Linked DNA regions of Homo sapiens. The protein of the gene in region 1 purifies or fractionates together with the protein of each later gene. This does not show direct contact. Each region holds a gene or a part of one and is shown in the gene's direction. Other genes may lie near its edges. The genes, in order: NEK9, CCDC198, BOP1, CAP1, ZAR1L and DPY19L1.

Region 1 (3,534 bases):
CCTGTGGAGATAATCATGTGGTGGTTCTGACACGAAACAAGGAAGTCTATTCTTGGGGCTGTGGCGAATATGGTAGGGGTAGCCTTGTCTCTGTCCACTTCTTCACAGGTATACAACCTGACTTCAAAGTTGTATGCATCTAAACCCATCATGCAGCCCCTAAATGAGAAGTGTTAATTCAGTAAATCTTTTTTTTTTTTTTTTTTTTTTTTCTCGAGACAGAGTCTCTCTCTGTCACCCAGGCTGGAGTGCAATGGCATGATCTGGGCTCATTGCAACCACCACCTCCCGAGTTCGAGTGATTCTCCTGCCTCAGCCTCCCGAGTAGCTGGGATTACAGGCACACACCATCACACCCAGCTAATTTTTTGTATTTTTAGTAGAGATGGGGTTTCACCACACTGGCCAGGCTTGTCTCGCTCGAACTTCTGACCTCATGATCCACCTGCCTCGGCCTCCCAAAGTGCTGGGATTACAGGTGTGAGCCACCGCACCTGGCAAAAGAGAATCTTACAGAACCTATTCACTGGGAAGGAAGCCCTCATTATAATGATTTTCATTCTTATGTGTGTTTCAGGACGACTGGGTTTGGATTCAGAAGAGGATTATTATACACCACAAAAGGTAAAATCAGAAGCAACTTATTTCTAAAACCTATCTTAAGTCGCACAGACTCCAATAATATGTCCTCTTTCCTTGGCTCTGTTGTATCAAGGTATTTATTTCCGAAGTGTTTCCTGTTTGGGAGACTGACAATTTAGGATTCCTGATTTAGCACCCTGTGGTCTTGTCATCTGACCAAATCACAGAAAATTGAGAAAGTGGATACAGCGACTGTGGACATTGTGAAGTCACATCTTACTCAGGGATGACAGCTAAAATCAGCGTGTACAGCAGAAAAGTCACATATAGCTACAAATACCCTGGAAAACTCGAGAAGATACTGTAAAGCAGTATACTGTCTCTTAACCCAACACAGCCATTTTCCTCTCCTGTTTCTACAGTTGACCACCAGATGAAATATTAATAGTTGTTTTTGTTTAGCGGTCATGTTGCATGAAACATATTATCTAATTACTCTCAGCCTTGCCAGAGCTGGCCCTGTGAGAGGCTCACAGAGGCTGATACCAGCTGGGGGAAAAGCACAGTCACATCTCTCCCACCTACCCTAGGGCACAGGCTTACCCATTGGAGGGTTGGCTAAATCAGCTATACCATTTATTGTTAGCAGTGTTTTGGGTTTTCTGTTTTCTTTTTTTTTTTTCTTTCCTTGGGAACTTTTAGCCAAACCAGTTTTTATTTATATTTTAAAAATTAAATTATTATGCATTTCTAGGGACCATCCTCAATGGGATTCCCAGCTGTTCCTTTTCTCCTGGAAAGGCTGTGGCAGAAACTGAGGGTTGAGGTTTCAGGTTTTACACACATCCATTGTGACCCCACACATGCATCACCCCACCTTCTCCAGTCCTGTCTAGTTAGCTGTAAAAAGATATGAGCATTTGGAAGTCCTAGATATTACCTCAGTACTCTGTCACCTCTCCTATAAAATGACCAGATTGGGACCCCACAGGGCTACTGAATTTCTGTAACTGTCAAGCAGCCTTCCATCTCAAAGGACAAAATCAGCAATGAATTGAAGCTTCTTTCTCAACTTTTTGACAGGTCACCCTAAGTAGGACCTATTACTAAGACAAACTGAGAGGGTGCTGTCTTGTTTAGTTGACCTGGAACTGTCACCTTTTCTTTGATATTGTAAAACTTGAGCTCTTCGTTGACAACAGTAGCCTTGACCGAGCACAATGGCTCACGCCTGTAATCCCAGCACTTTGGGAGGCCGAGGCGGGCAAATCACTTGAGGTCAGGAGTTCGAGACCAGCCTGGCCAACATGGTGAAACCCTGTCTCTACTAAAAACACAAAAATTAACTGGGCATGGTGGCACACGCCTTTAATCCCAGCTACTCAAGAGGCTGAGGCAGGAGAATCGCTTTGAACCTGGGAGGCAGAGGTTGCAGTGTGCTGAGATCATACCACTGCATTCCAGCCTGGGCGACAGAGCAAGACTCCACCTCAAAAAAAAAAAGAAGAAAAGAAAATAGTAGTCTCAGCCAGGCGTGATGGCTCACACCTGTAATCCCAGCACTTTGGGAGGCCAAGGTGGGTAGATCACCTGAGGTCAGGAGTTCGAGACCAGCCTGGCCTACGTGGCAAAACCTCATCTCTAATAAAAATACAAAAATTAGCTGGGCGTGGTGGCATGCACCTGTCATCCCAGCTATTTGGGAGGCTGAGACAGGAGAAGTCGCTTGAACCTGGGAGGCAGAGATTGCGGTGAGCTAAGATCGCACGACTTCACTCCAGCCTGGGCAAAAGAGGGAAACTCTATCTCAAAAAAAAAAAAAAAGAAAAAGTAGTCTCTAAGACACTGGGCAAACCTGAAAAGAATAGAGCAGTCCTCACTTTCCTGTAGTCATTCTGCTAAATGCAGCATGTCTCTTTTGAAAGAATTTGAGAGCTTTTTTTCTAATACGAATTATATATTTGGGATTTCTTTTTCTGATTTTTTTCTTGCAGGTGGATGTTCCCAAGGCCTTGATTATTGTTGCAGTTCAATGTGGCTGTGATGGGACATTTCTGTTGACCCAGTCAGGCAAAGTGCTGGCCTGTGGACTCAATGAATTCAATAAGCTGGGTCTGAATCAGTGCATGTCGGGAATTATCAACCATGAAGTGAGTGTCCTGATTGGTGTTCTAACCACATCATCAGAATTTCTCTAGGTTGGAATTTCTTTGAGATGCCATTATTGGTTAGTGACCATGGAATTTGACTTTAGTTATGGTCTCATAGGCATTGTGTGCAGAAAAAGAAGCCAGCCACAAAGAGTACATGCTATATAGCTCTATCTGTGTAAAATTTAAGAACAGGCAAAATTAACTTATACTGGCAGAAATCAAAACTGTGGCTACTTATTGAAGGAGGGGTATTAACAGAAGAGGTGGAAGGGATCCTAGAGTAATGGGAATGGTCTATATCTTGATCTGTAATGGTTTTACCAGTATATGTATATAGAAAAATGTGTCAAGCTGTGTGATATTTTGCAGTGTGTTATACTTCAACAAATAAATTGATTACAAAGAATAAAATGATGAAATTCAGCTTTTACCTTATTGAAATAGGAACAAGCAAATTAATGTTATAAAAAAAAACATATTTCCATGCATCACCTTCCTGGAGTTTTTTTGATTGATTGGAGTTTTTTAGATTTCTCCCAAATCACTGATCCTGTTTAGGCTTATCGAATGTAATTACCATTCTGTCTTCAAAAATGTTAGCAAATTCACCACTGATATTGTCTTAGTTTCCTTTTTTTTTTTTTTATTATACTTTTAAGTTCTAGGGTACATGTGCACAACGTGCAGGTTTGTTACATATGTATACATACGCCATGTTGGTGTGCTGTACCCATTAACTCGTCATTTACATTAGGTATATCGCCTAATGCTATCCCTCCCCCCTTCCCCCACCCTATGA
Region 2 (3,534 bases), about 18 Mb from region 1:
AGCTATTAATGAGAATGTTCTTAAAGAAAAATGTCATCAATCGCAAATACTCTATTACTTTAAGATTTCCTTTAGCAATGATTTCGCTTTTAAGACCAGCCACCGAAAGAAGCTAGTAGCAAGGACATAGATACCATGGAATTCAAGAGGCTTGAATCTAGCACTGATTAGTTGGGTGACTATGGGAAAACAACTTGTAATAAATAATAACAGCTACTACTATTTAATTACACCCTACTACAAGTCAGATACTATACTAGGCAATTCAATCTATGTCATTCATTTAATCTTCTTAGCCACCTATGAAAAAGGAAGAATTATCTTTGTTTTATACATGCTAGTCAGAGAGTTCAGTAACTACCCCCAAAGACTCACAGAGGCCAGATATCAACCAGGTCTCCAAAGTCTGTACTCTTAACTGTCAGCATAAGTAATTTCTATAGTCCTTCTATCTTTAACCTTTTATTGTTCTAGATGTTAACTGGTTGTTTAAATTCGGGACACTGGATTCCAAGGAAGCAAAGCAAGAGCTTTAAACGCATTCACCCCAATAAATATTTAATGGGTTCTCTGCAGCTAGCTATACATTTTAAGAACTCTCAACCTAGAAAGGGAATGGGTAGATTGGAGTGGTCCTTGAAAATGAGCATCATTGGAAGGAGGGTTTGGGGCTCTCTTGTGAGCAGGATCTATCACTGACATTTGAAGCCAAATCCCACCTGCTACACAATTCACCCAGATGCCTGGACCAATCCCAGGGGTACTGGAGCTCATTTGTTGGGGATTATTTCTGTTTCAGTTGGTTTTTATTTACCTGTCTTCTGCAGAAGCTCACAGCCATTATTTGAAGTGATTGTATCATTTTGTCTCAAAAGAGTATCTTTTCCCAAAATATTAGAAACTATAAAATCATTATTTAGATAAAGAAAAATAAAATGAAATATAACAAATTAATATCTAATTTACAAGTTTTTACAAATCCTCTAGGTAAACAGGGCAGTTTAAAATGTGTTTTATTCCTAAATCAAATACTTCCTTTCAAAGGATGAGTTTAATACATGTTTCTGTGAAGCCTCTAAGCTGATTAGTTCAAATAGAAGATATTACTCTAGTAAAAAATATTTGTCTAGTACTTTATAGCTCACAAGTACTTTTTATATCTATCAGTCCTAAACAAAGGAGGTTAGGTTTTGATTTTCTCAATAGTCAAACAAGGTCAAAAAGAGAACATTGGTATTTCAGAGTCAAACACTGCACCACCACCCCCATACACACACACCCTAACCAACCATCTTAAAAACAAAGAATCAAGACAAATGAATTATTTCAGTGCAAAGACTGTGCCTTTTTTTTCTTCAACTTTTAAGTTCAGGGGTACAGGTGCAGGATGTGTAGGTTTGTTATAAAAGTAAATAAGTGCCACGGTGATTTGCTGCACAGATCATCCCATCACCTAGCTATTAAGCTCAGTATTCATTAGCTGTTCTTCCTGATGCTCTCCCTCTCCACCAACCCTGACAGGCCCCAGTGTGTGTTGTTCCCCTCCCTGTGTCCATATGTTCTCATTGTTCAGCTCCCACTTATAAGTGAGAACATGTAGTGTTTGGTTTTCTGTTCCTGAGTTAGTTTTGCTGAGGATAATGGCTTCTAACTCCATCCATGTCCCTGCAAAGAACATGATCTCGTTCCTTTTTGTGGCTGCATAGTATTCCATGGTGTATATGTACTACATTTTCTTTATCCAGTTTATCACTGGTGGGCATGTAGGTTGATTCCATGTCTTTGCTATTGTGAACAGTGCTGCAATTAACATATGCATCGATGTATCTTTATAATAGAATGATTTATATTCCTTTGGGTATATACCCAGTAACGGGATTGCTGGGTCAAATGGTATTTCTGCCTCTAGGTCTTTGAGGAATCACCACACTGTCTTCCACAATGGTTGAACTAATTTACACTCCCACTAACAGTGTAAAAGCATTCCTTTTTCTCCGCAACCTCTCCAGCATCTGTTGTTTTTTGGCTTTTTAATATAGCCATTCTGATTGGTGTGAGGTGGTATCTCATTGTGGTTTTGATTTGCATTTCTCTAATGATCAGTGATGTTGAGCTTTTTTCATGTTTGTTGACTGTATGCATGTCTTCTTTTGAGAAGTGTCTGTTCATGTCCTTTGCCCACTTTTTAATGGGGTTGTTTGTTTTTTCCTTGTAAATTTGTTTAAGTTCCTTGCAGACTCTGGATATTAAACCTTTGTCAGATGGATAGACTGCAAAAATTTTCTCCCATTCTGTAGGTTGCAAAGACTATGTCTTATTCAATCTTATGTCTTCAGCCATTAATACTTAATATGAGATCCACAAAGGTTTGTGAGTAAAATGAATGAGTAAATGAATGACAGTGAGACCCATCATCCCTGCTGGAGGGGGGATAAAGCACTCAAAGTGCACTCCCTGCTACTGCAGACCTGTAATCACTGTATTAGAAGTCTGTACCATCACTGTAACATGACTGTATTAGAAGTCTCATTGACTAGCAAAAATAACTAACATGATTAATCAAAGGATATAGGAATGTTTTATTGAACCAAAGATCTGGGAGACACCTAAGCTTCAGGGAAGAATTATACCTTGCAACCTGAAATGCAGAGCTCTCTCAATCCCTAAGTTCTTCTCTGTGCATTTGCTATACTCTTTCTCCCCAAAGATCAGTTTTTTCTGTTCTTCAGGTACACAATGAAATATGGCCACCCTGAGCTTGTATCTTACAGTTCCAGTCAAATGGACAGATTGGCCTTTTTGACTCCAATTCCAGATTCCTAGGAGAAAGGATATCGGCTCAGCTTTGCTCATGATTTCAGCTCTGGTCCAATGAGCTATGGCCAGAGGATATGCTCATGCAGTAGATATGTGGGCAGAGTCATCTCCCCTGTAGACTCTGAAGTCAGCTCCCAGAGAGGAGGGAAATCACTAGAAACTTGGCAGACACTCCCAAAGAGATCAGCTATAATTATCTTCACAAATGAAGCTCAGCACATTTTCCAGCACAAATGAGTTTTTGAGAGAATAATACATGCTGGGTCCTCATGACATGCTAATTAATAGCCTAATTTCTGCCAAAGAAAATTCTAAAATTATTTTAAATTATTAAACCAAATCTAATTGTATGCTAAATTATTTGAGATATATTTTTGGCACCTTCTACTTCCTAAACATCTACTCCTCAAATAAAGAGCAAGTCATGAACTAGCGTTATCCAGCCTGGAGCTGAGAGGCTTTGAGAGCCTCTGCCAGGGAACTCCGAATCAAATGGGCCTTTTTATTGAGGAGTTGATTAGCACTGTCCCCTCTGGCCTGATCACCTTCTTATCCAACCATTTCAGGTCTAGCTTAAATTGGAGGTGTTTCCCCCACACATATAGTGTGTCCTCAGATGATCTCCTTGGATAACTCCCTCATCTTCAAATATTTGTTCAAATCTCACTGTCCCTATAAGACCCACCCTGACCAATCAATTGACATTGCAACCCCCAT
Region 3 (2,981 bases), on another chromosome or scaffold:
TCCCCAGCCTCCCCGCCCTGGGTGGGCCCCTTTGGCCATCCCTAGCTCTTACCCCTCATGCAGCTCCCTGCAGGGGACTCCACACTCCACTGGGAGCCGAGTGTCCTAGGGACGCCCTGGAGAGGAGCCCCAGGAGAAGGCCCCAGCCCCCGGCAGGCCTGTGTTACAGGTGTGCCTGCCTGTGCCCTGTTGGGGAGCCCTGCCCGTGTGGCCTCGCCTCCTCTGCCTGGCAGGTGTGGGCTGAGGGGCGCGTTGGAGGCCCCCCTCGGCGCCCCACGGCCCGTGCTCACCAACTTTCTCTGGTTGCTGAGGCAGAAGGTGCAGATCTGTTTGGGCTGGGTGTTCTCGCCGTCGCGGGCGGGAGGCGGCGGGGGCGGCGGCGGGGGGCTGCCGGCGCGCGCCGCGTGGAAGAAGGCGGGCCCGGAGTGGCAGGGCTGTCCGTCGCCGCAGGCCTCGCCCGCCAGCAGCACGTTGCCCAGGTGCGAGATGTAGCTGGAGGCCAGGCGCAGCGTCTCAATCTTGGAGAGCTTGCGGTCGGCGGGCTCGGTGGGGATCAGCGTGCGCAGCGCCGTGAAGGCCGTGTTCACGCTGTTGGTGCGGTCTCGCTCGCGCGCGTTCGCCGTGTGCCGCTGCCGGGGCTCACGGCCTGGCCGGCCCCCTGGCCCCCCGCCCCCGGCCCGCCGGCCCCCCGCCCTCCGCCGGGCGCCCTGGAGGCCGCAGCGCGCCGCGTGCACGCGACAGGGTTTCTCGTCGGAGCCCGAGCTGTCGCTGCCGCGGTCCTCGTCCTCCGACAGCGGGCTCACCTCGGGGTACAGGTAGCGGCCCGGCGGCGCCGGGCGCAGCGTGGCGAAGGACATGGGGCCGGCGGGGGCGCGGCGTCAGCTCTGTCGCGCGCTGCTCATGCCGCCTCCTGCGGCCGCCGCGGGCCTCGCGGGCCGGCCGGGGCGAGGCGCGGGGTCTCGGCTGCGCCCCGCGGTGGCAGCTGCCGGGCGTCGCGCGCACATGTGCGTCCCGGGCCGGAGCGGGGCCCCGAGCTGCGCCTTTATAGCGGCGTCCCGGCCCCTCCCCCGCGCACGCCCCGCCCCTCTCAGCCCGGAGGCTCCTCGAGCAGCGCCCGCCGCGTCCCTCGGCCTTCTGTGGCCACGCTTTGGCGGGGGTGGGGGGGGCGGGGCTGGTCTTTGGGGGCATCGTTCCGTCTCTGGGGATGCGGAGGAACTGGGAGGTCGCTTCTGGGCTGTAGTTACTCAGGGCCCCAAAACTGCAGTGCCCCCCGTCCCCGGGAGAGGGGAGGAACCCACCACCCCGTTTTCTCCCGTGGCACAACTGAGTTAACCCAGCCGCCCTGGCCCTGCTGCCTGACCGCACCCTGTCTGTCTTTGCCTCCCATGTGCGCCAGCGCCTGCCTGTGCCAGGCCGTGTGCAGGGGGCGGGCACAGGCGAGTATTTAGGGGCCTAGAGCTCAGTCTCTCCGCCTGTCTGTCCTGCACCTGCCTCTCCAGGCTTGGCACAGACTGTGCCTTCTGCTAGCTGGCCATGTCCCCTGTTCTTGTGCTGTGTGGACCTCTCACCCCGTCGGTCTCCTTGCCCCTTCCTCCTTCCCCCGTTCCTCTCCAGGGCCACCAGGCCCCTCAGGAAGCACACACATACCCCCATTATCCAATTTGGGGATGGCCCCCTATCTCCATGGGGAGGAGAGGGAAGGACCCTCAGCAGGGGGCAGGGCCCAAGGGGTCCCTCCTGCAGCAGGGGGCCCGGCAGGCTCCCAGCTGTGCTCTGTCTTGCCTGGGCCCCTCCCCGTGGCTACTGTTGCAGGAAGCAGCCTCCTGGGCAGCGGTCCCCAGGCTGGAAGGAGCGAGGGTGGCGGCTGGCAGGGGCTGCAACCAGGAATGTACGTCCAGGAACGTGGCTGTTCTGCCTGGGGAGGGGCCGAGGGCAGACGGTGGGGGGTCCCCCACAGAGAGGTCTTGGCTTCTGCCTCTCTGTGGAATGGGTCAGTTGGGGTCTTCCCCGAGTCCCCGTCTTATAGCTGCCCACTTCTGCCTAAGGCCCCTGCCAGGGGAGGGAGCCCGTGGGTGATGAGGTCATCCCTGTCTGTGGCTGCCCAGAGCCCTGGCCAAGGAATCCAGTGAGGGGGGAGCTCTGGGGTTGGCACCACTTCAGTGGAAAATGTGAAGGTGCAGCTCCGGCGCCTCCGAGGGCGGGGGTGGGGGCAGCGTGGCCGCCATGCCACGTCAGACCCCAGGGCTGGGGAACAGGCGTAGGTCAGGGCCAGTGACCTCAGGGCACTTGAGGCTGGGCCTGCACTCCCCCTGCAACCCCCTCACCTGCTCCCCTGGGCGGCCCGAAGCGGGGGTGGGCCTTGTAGGATCAGATGCCGACATGGTGGCCCCCGGCTGCAGGACATCCGGAACACGGTGGGCAACGTGCCCTTGGAGTGGTACGATGACTTCCCCCACGTGGGCTACGACCTGGATGGCAGGCGCATCTACAAGCCCCTGCGGACCCGGGATGAGCTGGACCAGTTCCTGGACAAGATGGACGATCCTGACTACTGGTGAGGGCTGGTGGGGTGGGGCCAGCAGCCGGGGTGGGCCCGAGGGGTGGGGCAGGGCTGGCGGGGTCTGACTGGCGGTCTCCAGGCGCACCGTGCAGGACCCGATGACAGGGCGGGACCTGAGACTGACGGATGAGCAGGTGGCCCTGGTGCGGCGGCTGCAGAGTGGCCAGTTTGGGGATGTGGGCTTCAACCCCTATGAGGTAGGTGGCAGGGGCTGGCCCCTGGGCGGCGGGGGTCCTGGAGGCACCAGCAGGGCCTCAGCCACTCTGGCCCACACGCCCACATCTTCTCCCCCAGCCGGCTGTCGACTTCTTCAGCGGGGACGTCATGATCCACCCGGTGACCAACCGCCCGGCCGACAAGCGCAGCTTCATCCCCTCCCTGGTGGAGAAGGAGAAGGTGGGGCACACAGCCCCTGGGGCTT
Region 4 (4,113 bases), on another chromosome or scaffold:
TTTGAAAACTAGAGGGCATAATGGTACCTACCACCGAGAGTTGCTATTAGGAGTAAATGAAAATACGCTTGAAGAACTCAGCATGGGCCTGGCAAGTAGTCAGCGTGCAGTAAATGGTAGCTGTTATTTTAAGAACTTTATTTGTTGAATGATTGACTCTGGCACATAACGCCTGCATTCAACTTGAAACACGGAGCTGTCACAGTCGTTCAGCTGAAGGGGCGGGAACTGTGGCACTTGCCAATTTTTTCTAGAAATAAATCTTTGTGGGAGGATAATGACCGGTTGGAGAGTGTGAGTCTTGAGGGAACAAAGATCGGATCTCCCGGCCCAAGGAGTACGGAAGCGAAGCCTCCCCTGCGCGCGGCAGCCACCGTGCGTAACCTCCCCTGAACCGAGTAGCAGCCGCCTGAGCCCACCCAGCCCTGGGCGAGGCTGCCTCAGAAGCCGGATTTCAGCAGAGTGGGTGCAGGATCTGCTTTAATTCTGCTCATCTTATTCTCGGGGACCACACCCTGCGCGCCGGGAGGAAGGGCTCCAAAACCACAGGGCGGAGGCTTCCGCGCGGCCCCAGACTTGACCATCTATGGTCACAGAACACACCGACCAAACAGGAAGTGGGGTGAGAGCGGAGGGTTCCCTACCTTCCCAGCCCCGCGACTGCCAGCCGGGCTGGGGCTGACCCACCGCGCCCTCACTGACCCCCACGCCCTGCGCCCAGTCTCCGCAAGTCCTCCCACAACAATGTCCAGACTAATTGCCTTCCCACGTCACAAACGGGGAAACCGAGGTATGCACGCCCAGAGACAGGCGGAGCGTGGCCTCGATCACCACCGAGAGCTGACGGCCGCCCGGATTCCCGCCCTCAGAGAATCCTGGCCCCCAGTCGTTCCAAGACCCTTTACGGACTGCAGCTTAAAGGAACCGGCCTCTGCCATTGAGACCAAACTGACAGAGGAACTGGTCACTCTTCTGTTCTTTCCAGAGAGGAGCTTAGCCAGGGACTTCTGCCCTTCCTGGGCCCGGGCCTCGGGGGCGATTCCGGGTAGGTAAAGCGGAACGAGGGCGTGGCCTCTCTTGTGAGCCCGCCCTCCCCGTGTCGCTCCCGCCTTGAGGGCGGGGCTCTTTCCCAAGTGCCCTCTGTGAGAGCCGGGCCGCTCTCTCCGGGGCGTGGCGAAGAGGGGCGGAGTCACGAGCGGGGCGGTGAGACTTCCTGCCCAGTCGCGGGCCAGCCTAGCGCTTCAGCCGGCGGCTCATTTCCGGTGGGGGCGCCGCGCCCAGTGAGGGCCCGGAAGTGGGTCGCGCGGAGATTGCTGGGCGGTTCTTGCCGGAAGCGGAGAGCGGCTGATCGCAGTCCGGAGGTGAGGCGGAACTCTGAGGTGAGGGTGTGCAGCTTGGTAGGGATTGGGGTCCCTTCCGGGGCCCATCGGCCCCTGGTGGTGTTAATGGCCCTTCTGGCCTACGCGCGTGTCATGAACCCTGCCGAGAGGGCCGGGGCTGAGGCCCTCAGGCCGACCCGGACTCTTGGGCGCGGTCTCTTGAGGTGGGGCCGGGGTGAGCAGCTGAGTCCGGGTGCCCCGGGGAGGCCCCTCTGCCCGATTTCGCAGCGCTGCCCATCAGCTTCAGCGGAGGCCTGATTCCTGAGGTGCTCTGACTGGAAGGAACCTCCGAGATCGGAGAGTCTTCCCTGTCTCCTGTTGATGCTCCCATTGCACTGATAGGTAAATTGATCCCTAGAGAAGAGGCTAGTCTGAGATATATAGCGAGTGAGGAAAAGAATCGGAATCATGATCCTGGTGCCTTAGATAACCAGCCCCAGTTCTTCCCGTGTTGCTCGGAACCTCTCTAACTTGGGATGGTCTTCCGGTCGGTGTTGCCCCGCAGGCTGCTGCAGGTTAAAGGCCAGCGCTGCGTGGAACTTTTTTTTTTCTCTCCTCCCAAATTGAGCCGTTTGAAATGCCTAGGGAGTTTTTAAAAGAAAGGCGGGCACATCCTTGTATTTACAGGCAGATATCCTCCCTTTCCTCCTCGGCTGCTGCTCTTACTTTGACAAGCCAGGCTAACATTGAAGGTATGTACTTCTGGACCTGAAATCAGACGGCTCAGGTTTGGTCTGGCCTCAGTGCTGAGTGTCTGTGGCCATAGGTGCCTTAAACTTCTTTCAGCCTCCTTTTGTTCATCTTTTAAGTGGAGATCTCTGCTGACCCCACAAGATTAAATTCAGCGTAACAAATTGTGTTTATTCTGTGCCAGCATTTTCCCAGATGCGGGGAATGCAGCTTTAAAACAAAACAATGTAGACCCTGCCCGCGTGGAGCTAGCAGTGTTTGCAGGGATGTTTAAGAAGTAATTATAAATGTTGATGAGTGTTAGGAAAGAACAGGGTGCTCTGAAAGTATGTAACAGGGGGTTCAGGAAAAGCCCTTCTGAAGAAGCAGAGTTTTTAAGATGAATTTTGAAGGATAAATAGGAATGCGTTCGAAGAGTGGAATGAGAACATTTGAGACAGGTTAGCATCAGAACTGTGTCAGTTGAAGCTCTTTGTGGGGCTCTCTCTTCAAGAGAAAATCCGGGGGCATATCAGCACATTTATCATTTACCAGACTTTTATTTAATTTATTTATTTGTATTTTTAGTAGAGATGGGGTTTCGCCGTGAAGGCCAGGCTGCTCTCGAACTCCTAACCTCAGGTGATCCCCCCACCTCGGCCTCCCAAAGTGCTGGGATTACGGGCATGATCCACCGTGCCCGGCCCCACCAGACGTTTATTAAGACCTTAATATGTATGAGGCACATTTTAATGAGATAGCCTTTGTGGCAAAGAATACAGTTCTTCTGGAGTTTACAGTGGGAGAGGAAATAGACAAGTAAATGAGGGATGGCTTACAGTGTCATAGTGCATAGCACAGGGCTACAAGAGCACAGTGGAGAAATACCTGAGCCAGGTGCCCAGGGTTCCAGGAGGAAATGGGAGGCTAACTCTTGAAATATTTATTTAGCTACATAGGGAATCCGGAAAAGGGATTTCCAGGCAGAGACTACTACAGGTGCAAGGACCTGGAGAACCGGACAGCTGAAAGACCATGACGAGTTCAGTGTGACTGGAATTCTAGTAATGGCTGGGGAAGTGGAGGAAGTGAGATGTGGTCAGGTCAGTCATATGTGGAGGACATTGTAAGTCATGCTAAGGAATTTGGATTTTTACCCTGAAAGCTATGGAGATGCTTTGAAGGGTTTTATGCAGGAAAATGATGTCGTCAGATTTATATTTCAGAAAGTTCATTCTGTCAAGTAGGAGGGGACCAGCCCTGTGGGGAAGTAAAACAGTGTTTGGAAGCTCTTGCTGTAGACATGGCCTGAACTAAGACAGTGGAAATGGGAATGGAGAGGAGGCATCAGATGTGAGCAATATTAAGAAGATAGAATCCATAGAATTGGAGGCTGATTATGGGAATGAAGAGGTAAGAATAGCGCGATTGCCTGGCTTTCTGGCTTAGGGAACTGAATGGGTAGTACCATTCAGATAGAGAGTATGAGAGGTAAATTAGGGAAGTGACATGGGAAAAAATGCATTTTGAATGTTTTTAGTTTGAGGTGTTTGTAGCACATCCAGGCAAAGATGTCTAATAAGGTGGGTCAGCTAAAGGAAAGAGCAAGAGTAAAGATACGGAGGCAGGAGAGGGCCTAAATTGTTCAGTGATACTGGGGCCTGGAGTTTTGCAGAAGACCAGACTGCAAAAAAGGTTAGATGTCGGCCAAGTTGTGAAGGGCTTTTTGTTTGTTTGTTTGTTTTGAGACGGAGTCTTGCTCTGTTGCCCAGGCTGGTGTGCAGTGGCACAATCTCGGGTCACTGAAACCTCCACCTCCCAGGTTCAAGGAATTCTCCTGCCTCAGCCTCCTGAGAAACTGGGATTACAGGCGTGCGCCACCACGCCCGGCTAATTTTTGTATTTTTAGTAGAGACGGGATTTTACCATGCTGGCCAGGCTGGTTTCGAACTCCTGACCTCGTGATCCGCCTGCCTCGCCCTCCCAAAGTGTTGTGATTACAGGTGTGAGCCTCCGCACCCGGCGTGAAGGGCTTTTAATGCCTTGTTGAATTTGTTTGGATTTG
Region 5 (3,534 bases), on another chromosome or scaffold:
TCTGGTACTTCTATTAACTTTTTTAAGGAACCTTCATACTGTTGTCCATAATGGCTGTACCTTAAAACATTATCTAACATTACCACATTACCTTACAAAGGATCTTTAGAATGGTCACTACAGGAATATATGAATTAATCACTAATTAAAGCATATGTGTGAATAAGCTGGAAATGAAAAACAGCTTTGAAAAAAAGATTCCCGAACAGTGAAGAGGTAGGGAAAAGCAATTAGGTAGGAATCAGGTGGCAATTAGACATCTGTAGATAGAGCTTCTCTCCCTCAATCAGGGTAATAAGCAGCAGCTCCCATTAGAATCTGAAATAAATGGAGAAGCCAGGAATGAATCTGAACCAACCTGATGAAGAGAAAGAAGGGGCGGATGAAGGAGGAAGGCAAAATAAGGACCCAAACAAACTGGCTAGGATATTAGACTGCGCCTGAGCACCTGAGAGCGGATGGAGCGCTTTGTCCGTGTTCCCTATGGCTTGTACCAGGGTTATGGGAGCACAGTGCCTTTGGGCCAGCCTGGACTCTCAGGGCACAAACAGCCCGACTGGAGGCAAAATATGGGTCCTCCCACTTTTCTGGCCAGGCCAGGGCTGCTGGTGCCCGCGAACGCCCCTGACTACTGCATTGACCCTTACAAGAGGGCGCAGCTTAAGGCCATTCTCTCCCAGATGAACCCCAGCCTGAGCCCGCGGCTGTGCAAGCCCAACACCAAGGAGGTGGGCGTGCAGGTGAGCCCGCGGGTGGACAAGGCTGTGCAGTGCTCTCTGGGGCCTCGCACCCTCAGCAGCTGCTCCCCCTGGGACGGCAGAGACCCCCAGGAGCCCCTGCCAGCCTGTGGGGTCACTTCGCCCGCCACCGGCCGCAGGGGCTTGATCCGCCTGCGGAGAGATGGGGACGAAGCGGAGAGCAAGGCGCTCCCGGGCCCTGCGGAGGCCAGCCAGCCGCAGCCACCATCACGGAGGTCAGGAGCTGACAGGCAGGAGGAGCCCGGGCAGCTGGAGGAATCGGGGGAGAAAGACGCCCCGTGCCCTCAGGAGACGAAGAGCAAGCAGGTGCCTGGAGACGCCGCCTCCGAGCCGCTCCGGAGGCCCAACTTCCAGGTAGATCCTCTCTTCCCTCTTCTTAGTCCTCGACCAGCCTCATCCCCTCCCTCCTTTTCCATCTATGGGGGCAATAAGAGCAAAATCTTCTCTCTCTTCTTCCATGTACTTGGTGAAGGAGAGGGAGCTCTGAAAATATGTATATCACGTGGCCTGTATGTTTGGTAAGTTTTGGGTAAAATAGGTGCCAACCCAAACTAAGCCTGTGAAAACCAACAGTCTGGCAACCACTGCTATTGGAGAATTTGGAGACGAAGAAGGGCTTCGAGTCTGTAATACATGAAATCAGACTTTCGTTTTGGGAAGATTGTGCCGGTAGCATTGTGGAAAATGGATTGGAAAAGTACAAACGACAGCAGCAAGAAGAATCCCAGAGTAATCTTTAAGAGAGATGAGAAACTGAATCAATGCCGTAGTCTTGAGAATAGATACAAGTGAGGTTAAAGAAGTCATTTTTTTTTCCTTATACAAAGTCATAAAGAAGGATCTGGCTTTTTTCCCCTTGCATGATGGTAAAGTACTTTTCTTCTTTATTTTCAGTTTTTGGAACCAAAATATGGCTATTTCCACTGTAAAGATTGTAAGACCAGGTGGGAGAGTGCTTACGTGTGGTGCATTTCTGGAACGAACAAGGTAAATAAAAAGAGTAGGAGGTGAGAGGAGGATGGGGTGGGCACGGATGGTAAGCGGGGAAGAATCTGATTCCTGAGGGAGCATGGCTGTCATAGTCCTGTCTTGATCTTGGTGGCATCCCCCGTGCCAGGTGTACAGGAAGTGCTCAGTGAATGAATGGAACTGAATCGGACTGTCCACCTGGGTTTCCGAACCATACTCTGGCGTTATATATGACAAGATGTCAGGTTACTTAGATGAACTTTTGTTCTTGTCTACATTGGAAGTTTTTCTAACCGTTTTTTAGTTGGTATGCTTGGAACAGGTCTGGGCCTTAGCGCTAGGAAATTTCCACTGTTTGTCCACAAGGTGGGGCAATAAGTGAAAAAACTTACTGTAAAGATTTGCCTGTAAGAGACTTAGGCTACGCCTAAAGTTTCTTTTGCCCCCTTCCTAATTTAATTGCCAACATATTAGGACTGGAAAAGGCTTCACATTAAATTCTGCATTTCTGCATTTTCGTGAATCCTGTAGGCTCTGGTCATTAGAGACCCTCGTTTGAGAATGAGAACAGCAGGCTGCCCCTAAGGCTTCCTCTTCTTTTCCTTGCCCTGTGCACCTCGTTTTGCAACAGTCTACGTGGCCCGATGTTATTAACCTCCATAAGCATTTGAGTGTGAACGCCCTGTGCTGTCGCATGTTTAGAAATTGCCTTACTGGCCAAAGGACTGTGGAGAGAGAGGGCAAAAAGGCATTGAGTTCCGGATGAAAACTTGATTTCTCACACTAGCCATTTACTAGAGACCTAGAGAGTGAATAGATTTTTAAAGTTGAAGTTGAATTTACTTCCTTCTCTTGCCAGAAGAAAAATGAGTTTAATTCAAACATTCCAAGGCACTAGGATACAAAGAACAAAACACAGGACTTGTTCTCAAGGAATTTATTTTGATACGAGTGATGGAAACAAAATGTAATTTGGCAATACGTGCAGTAGCATCCTTCTTCATATGGAAGCAGTGCAGAGATAGCACAGGAAGGAGGGTATTAGCTCTGTCTGAGGGAAGACAGCTTGATGTCCAAGCAGGATTTGAAACAATAAATAGGAGGAAGAGTTCACCAAGCAAGGCAGAGAGAAAATGTGCACAGGAAATTGCACAAAGCCTAGAAAGCAGGTGGTATTGATGGGTAACCACAAGTAATTTAAAGTGTAAGCCGGGAAATACTGAAAAATGAAACATGTAAGAGCTAAAAGATAAGGACAAAAAGTATGGCAGCCACTTCCCATTGAGTATCTACTGTGGTACTTGGTGTACATTATTAGGGAGTTCTCAGAACTATGGAAAAAGTAAGTATTAATCGTATTATTCTGGCTGGATGCGGTGGCTCAGGCTTGTAATCCCAGCACTTTGGGAGGCCGAGGTGGGTAGATCATTTAAGGCCAGGAGTTTGAGACCAGCCTGGTCAACATGGCAAAACCCAGTCTCTACTAAAAATACAAAAAATTAGCCGGGTGTGGTGGCGGGCACCTGTAATCCCAGCAACTCAGGAGGCTGAGGCAGGAGAATCGCTTGAACCCAGGAGGCGGGGGTTGCAGTGAGCCGATTTCCCACCATTGCACTCCAGACTGGATTACAAGAGCAAAACTCCATCTCAAAAAAAAAAAAAAATGTATTCCAATTTTATGGGTAAGGAAAATTAGATTCAAAGAAAAAGTGATTAATAAGAACTAGTACACCTTGAAACCCCAAGGGTAGAGGTTGGTAAAAGCAAGATAAAAGGCAAGGCAAGGGTAGAAGTTGGTAAAAGCAAG
Region 6 (3,534 bases), on another chromosome or scaffold:
CAAAGGAGATATCAATCCTGTTTAAATGGTTTGCAGGGGAAATGTTATACATATGTTCTTAGTAATTTATTCTGCCATTTTTTATAGATTTTAATTTTTTCAAAATTTATTCACAGTCATAAATGCCACATTTAAAATAATTTTTCCTGTGCTTATTTTCTTAATGAATTTTTAATATTAGTCCTTCACATTCCTTCTTGAAATAAACTCATGGAATGTGACATTTTATTCATGTGTGGAAAGGGAGACTTTGTTGTCATCTGAGTATCAAATGATTGAATACTAAATCATCTTCCAGAACTCCTTGTTACTGTAAAGCTTTCCTAGTCCATTTGATACTTCTTTTTTAGATTCAGGAAAGATTTCTAAGATTTTTTCTTTAAAGAAAGAAAGAAATCTTTAATGATGAGATGATGAAGCTCTGTTTTCCAAGGAAAATAGTTTACCCAGGCCTGGCTGCCAACTGCTACTTTATCAGCCATCTGACTTCATGCTAGTTCTGCCATTGAATCTTGAAGTCATGAACCTGCTGGGCTTCCGCTCTGTTACCTGTGAAATAATTGATTTACACTTGAAGGAGACACCTTCTCGCCTTCACTGAGTGTCTTCCTGAGACATTCCTCTTGCCTTCCAGATGCAGTGTTTGCGGGTGCCATGCCCACGATGGCAAGTGTTAAGCTCTCTGCACTTCGGCCCATTGTGAATCATCCACATTATGAAGACGCAGGCTTGAGGTCAGTGCACAGTCTTGCATCATCAAAACAAACCTCCCATGCAAACAGACAGTGAGTGGAGGACACCAGCAAAGTAATAAGGAATGTTTCAAAAGGATATGATGAACTGAGGCTTATCGAGTCAGGGAGCAGAAAGCTGAAATAAGACCGCTAAGCTCTAAACAAATCCGTTAAAGCTTCACAGGGCAGGAAAGTGACAACTTTGGGGGCTCTCTTCTCTACCAGGCATATAAACGAAGTCATACTATAGCACTTTCCCACAGGTTAACAGGGCTCTAAAATGTCCAAGTCCTTTTCATCCTGTAACTCCCTGGGGAGTTTAGCTTAGAGTGTTTATTAAGGTTTTCTCATAGGTGATTTTTCTTGAGTTTGGAGAAGTCATTTGAAATAGAATCCCATTCAAAGAGGAGTTTATTCTGGTTTTCACCAGTATAGCCTGTTAGAATGATCTTGGGTGTTTTATGTTTTTTTAGATTTTTTTGAGACTTTAAAAAATAATTTAGAGATGTGTTGTCCAAATTTTTTTTTAAAAATTTAATTTTTCTTGCAGTTTCTAAGGCAGGTGAAGCTATTCATTTTCTAAGTGATTAGGTGAATCTTATTAGCATCTTCTTTTTCATAACAATGGCATGTACATTCACAAATAAGCTTTTTCATTAAAAAATCAATCTCATCAAGCTAATTTCCAGACCAATTTTGTTAAATAAGTTTAGTTTTTCTTAAATCTAGAAATAAAATGAAGAACCATTTAATGTGAATTATTGTTGATGTCTAAGTTGGGACTGTTGCAGCTTCACAGTAGTCCTATAGTTGTGTTTGTTGTAGTTCATCCCTGTTCACACACAGGGTACCTTACTCTTACATGTGATAGCGAAGTGAAGAATTTAAGACAAATAAATAAGTGAACAAACACAAAGAGACCAAGTTTGGGAATGTAGGGGTGTGTTAAAGGTCACCCTCTTCTCCACAACTTGTCCTCCTCCTGCCTTCTGCTTTTGACCTCACTGATGCCCCTTAGCGGGAACTTCCATGGGGAATTTCCTCCTGACTGGATTCTTCTTCATCGTCTTCTAGTCTAATTCAGTGCTTTCTTCCAAATGTGTTATTGTATCGTTTTAGTCTTGAAAATTTTATGCCCAATTATTTTTCTTTAAAGAGCCAGAACAAAAATAGTATACTCAATGTATAGTCGGAAAGCAGCCGAAGAAGTGAAGCGAGAACTGATAAAGTTAAAAGTGAACTATTACATTCTAGAAGAGTCATGGTGTGTAAGAAGATCCAAGTGAGTATCAACACAGTTAACATTTTATAATCATAAGACATGAAGGTTAATTCAAGCACATGGCACATGCTTTGCTGGTGGCGGGGGTGTGTATATAACATAAAGTATACATGGAAAAACTTCTTCTTTTTTTTTTAAACAGGCTCTCACTCTGTTGCCCAGGCTGGAGTGCACTGGCATGATCTGGGCTCACTGCAAGCTCCACTTAATTTTTGTATTTTTAGTGGAGATGGGGTTTTGCTGTGTTGACCAGGCTGGTCTCAAACTCCTGGCCTCAAGTGCTACTCCTGCCTTGGCCTCCCAAAGTGCTGGGAGTACAGGCGTGAGTCACCACGCCTGGCCTGAAAAAACTTTTTAGATAATGATTTGGAGACTTTCTTTTATAGTCTTTATAAATATCTTTTTTTTTTAAATAATGATTTGTATGTGTATACTACCTTAAAGAGATTTTATTGGCACTAGTTGATAATCTCCCAAATTGTTCATATTTGCCTTTGATGTTTTAAAAGAAACTTTTATTTAAAGTTGGATGTATTTTCTTTCAAAAGACTTCCAGGGTCTGAAACCAAGTAATGGGGAGTCTCTTTTGGTGAAGTCAGGCAGCTGAGCACCAGGGGTCACATTATCCTTACTGGGTCTCTGTGCTACACCATGTCCTGTCGATGGATGGGATACCCTGTCAGCAAAAACTCAGAATGAAATTTTTCTTTCCTGGTGTTTCACATCTTACTTGAATGGGAAAATGACTCTACTGTGACCCACTTTCTCTTGGGTTTATAGTTTTTAAGTTTCTATTTCCACAGAGATGTTTACTAAGCTGAGTATAGCTCCAAGTGACAGTAAGATCTTCAAAGCAGATGTGAATCTAAAGCTATCTAGAAATGTGGCACGTAAGTGACTGGACACCAGGTGACAGTAGCCTGCTTTTAAAGTACCAAAACATTCACTTCATGAAGAGCACAGTACAGGAACAATTTTATCAGAAATAAACACTATTTTATGGAATAATAATATTTTTTAAATTCTTACTATTCTGTAACTAAACAAAAGCGTTCAAGAGATTGCTATATTTGTGGCTTGATCACACTTTCCCACCATATATTTCAATGACACATATGGTATTAAGACAACATTGTTAAATACTGAGTCGTGAGTGAAAAATAGTTCTGTGACATAGTATCTACAGCTTTGCTCACAAGGAAACTAAAATAATTGTTGATTATAGAATGATTCTCCTATGAACGTGTGCTACGTGGTTTGAATTCAGTCAGGATTTATAGAAAATGTTATTTTGTAATAATTCAGAAAATGTTTTAAGCGTTTGTGAATATGTATATGAAATTCACATACTCACCTTTAACATTGTTATATAAATTTAGGACAGAAAAGTTCTAAGCATCTCATGACGATCTTAGGAAATTATATGAAATGAATGATAGGCTGACATTTGCAATAGGAAGAACTCAGTTCTTAGCATAGCTTTCTACCAGAATGGGGATCTTCTTTATTTCTTTGGGC

Evidence for each region.
Region 2: the proteins of NEK9 (region 1) and CCDC198 purify together in Homo sapiens (affinity purification with mass spectrometry, with the first as the bait; one large-scale study listed by BioGRID). This does not show direct contact.
Region 3: the proteins of NEK9 (region 1) and BOP1 purify together in Homo sapiens (affinity purification with mass spectrometry, with the first as the bait; one large-scale study listed by BioGRID). This does not show direct contact.
Region 4: the proteins of NEK9 (region 1) and CAP1 fractionate together in Homo sapiens (co-fractionation; one large-scale study listed by BioGRID). This does not show direct contact.
Region 5: the proteins of NEK9 (region 1) and ZAR1L purify together in Homo sapiens (co-immunoprecipitation; one large-scale study listed by IntAct). This does not show direct contact.
Region 6: the proteins of NEK9 (region 1) and DPY19L1 purify together in Homo sapiens (affinity purification with mass spectrometry, with the first as the bait; one large-scale study listed by BioGRID). This does not show direct contact.

What each region holds. Positions count from the first base shown.
Region 1 is NC_000014.9:75,103,040-75,106,573, reverse strand, and holds part of NEK9 (serine/threonine-protein kinase Nek9), read left to right. Parts: coding exon 1-72; coding exon of another isoform or gene 73-108; intron 109-577; coding exon 578-624; intron 625-2,576; coding exon 2,577-2,732; intron 2,733-3,534.
Region 2 is NC_000014.9:57,487,355-57,490,888, reverse strand, and holds part of CCDC198 (factor associated with metabolism and energy), read left to right. Parts: intron 1-3,534. UniProt on the Homo sapiens protein: May be involved in tuning the metabolism, energy expenditure, and excretion processes.
Region 3 is NC_000008.11:144,264,490-144,267,470, reverse strand, and holds part of BOP1 (ribosome biogenesis protein BOP1), read left to right. Parts: intron 1-290; coding exon of another isoform or gene 291-857; exon of another isoform or gene 858-1,018; intron 1,019-2,399; coding exon 2,400-2,554; intron 2,555-2,639; coding exon 2,640-2,757; intron 2,758-2,854; coding exon 2,855-2,956; intron 2,957-2,981. Other genes in the region: SCX (basic helix-loop-helix transcription factor scleraxis), read right to left, coding at 291-857. UniProt on the Homo sapiens protein: Component of the PeBoW complex, which is required for maturation of 28S and 5.8S ribosomal RNAs and formation of the 60S ribosome.
Region 4 is NC_000001.11:40,039,423-40,043,535, forward strand, and holds the start of CAP1 (adenylyl cyclase-associated protein 1), read left to right. Parts: upstream 1-1,306; 5' UTR 1,307-1,379; intron 1,380-1,603; exon of another isoform or gene 1,604-1,721; intron 1,722-2,006; exon of another isoform or gene 2,007-2,071; intron 2,072-4,113. UniProt on the Homo sapiens protein: Directly regulates filament dynamics and has been implicated in a number of complex developmental and morphological processes, including mRNA localization and the establishment of cell polarity.
Region 5 is NC_000013.11:32,308,850-32,312,383, reverse strand, and holds part of ZAR1L (protein ZAR1-like), read left to right. Parts: intron 1-290; 5' UTR 291-458; coding exon 459-1,112; intron 1,113-1,652; coding exon 1,653-1,745; intron 1,746-3,534. UniProt on the Homo sapiens protein: mRNA-binding protein required for maternal mRNA storage, translation and degradation during oocyte maturation.
Region 6 is NC_000007.14:34,936,476-34,940,009, reverse strand, and holds part of DPY19L1 (protein C-mannosyl-transferase DPY19L1), read left to right. Parts: intron 1-634; coding exon 635-734; intron 735-1,890; coding exon 1,891-2,016; intron 2,017-3,534. UniProt on the Homo sapiens protein: C-mannosyltransferase that mediates the C-mannosylation tryptophan residues on target proteins.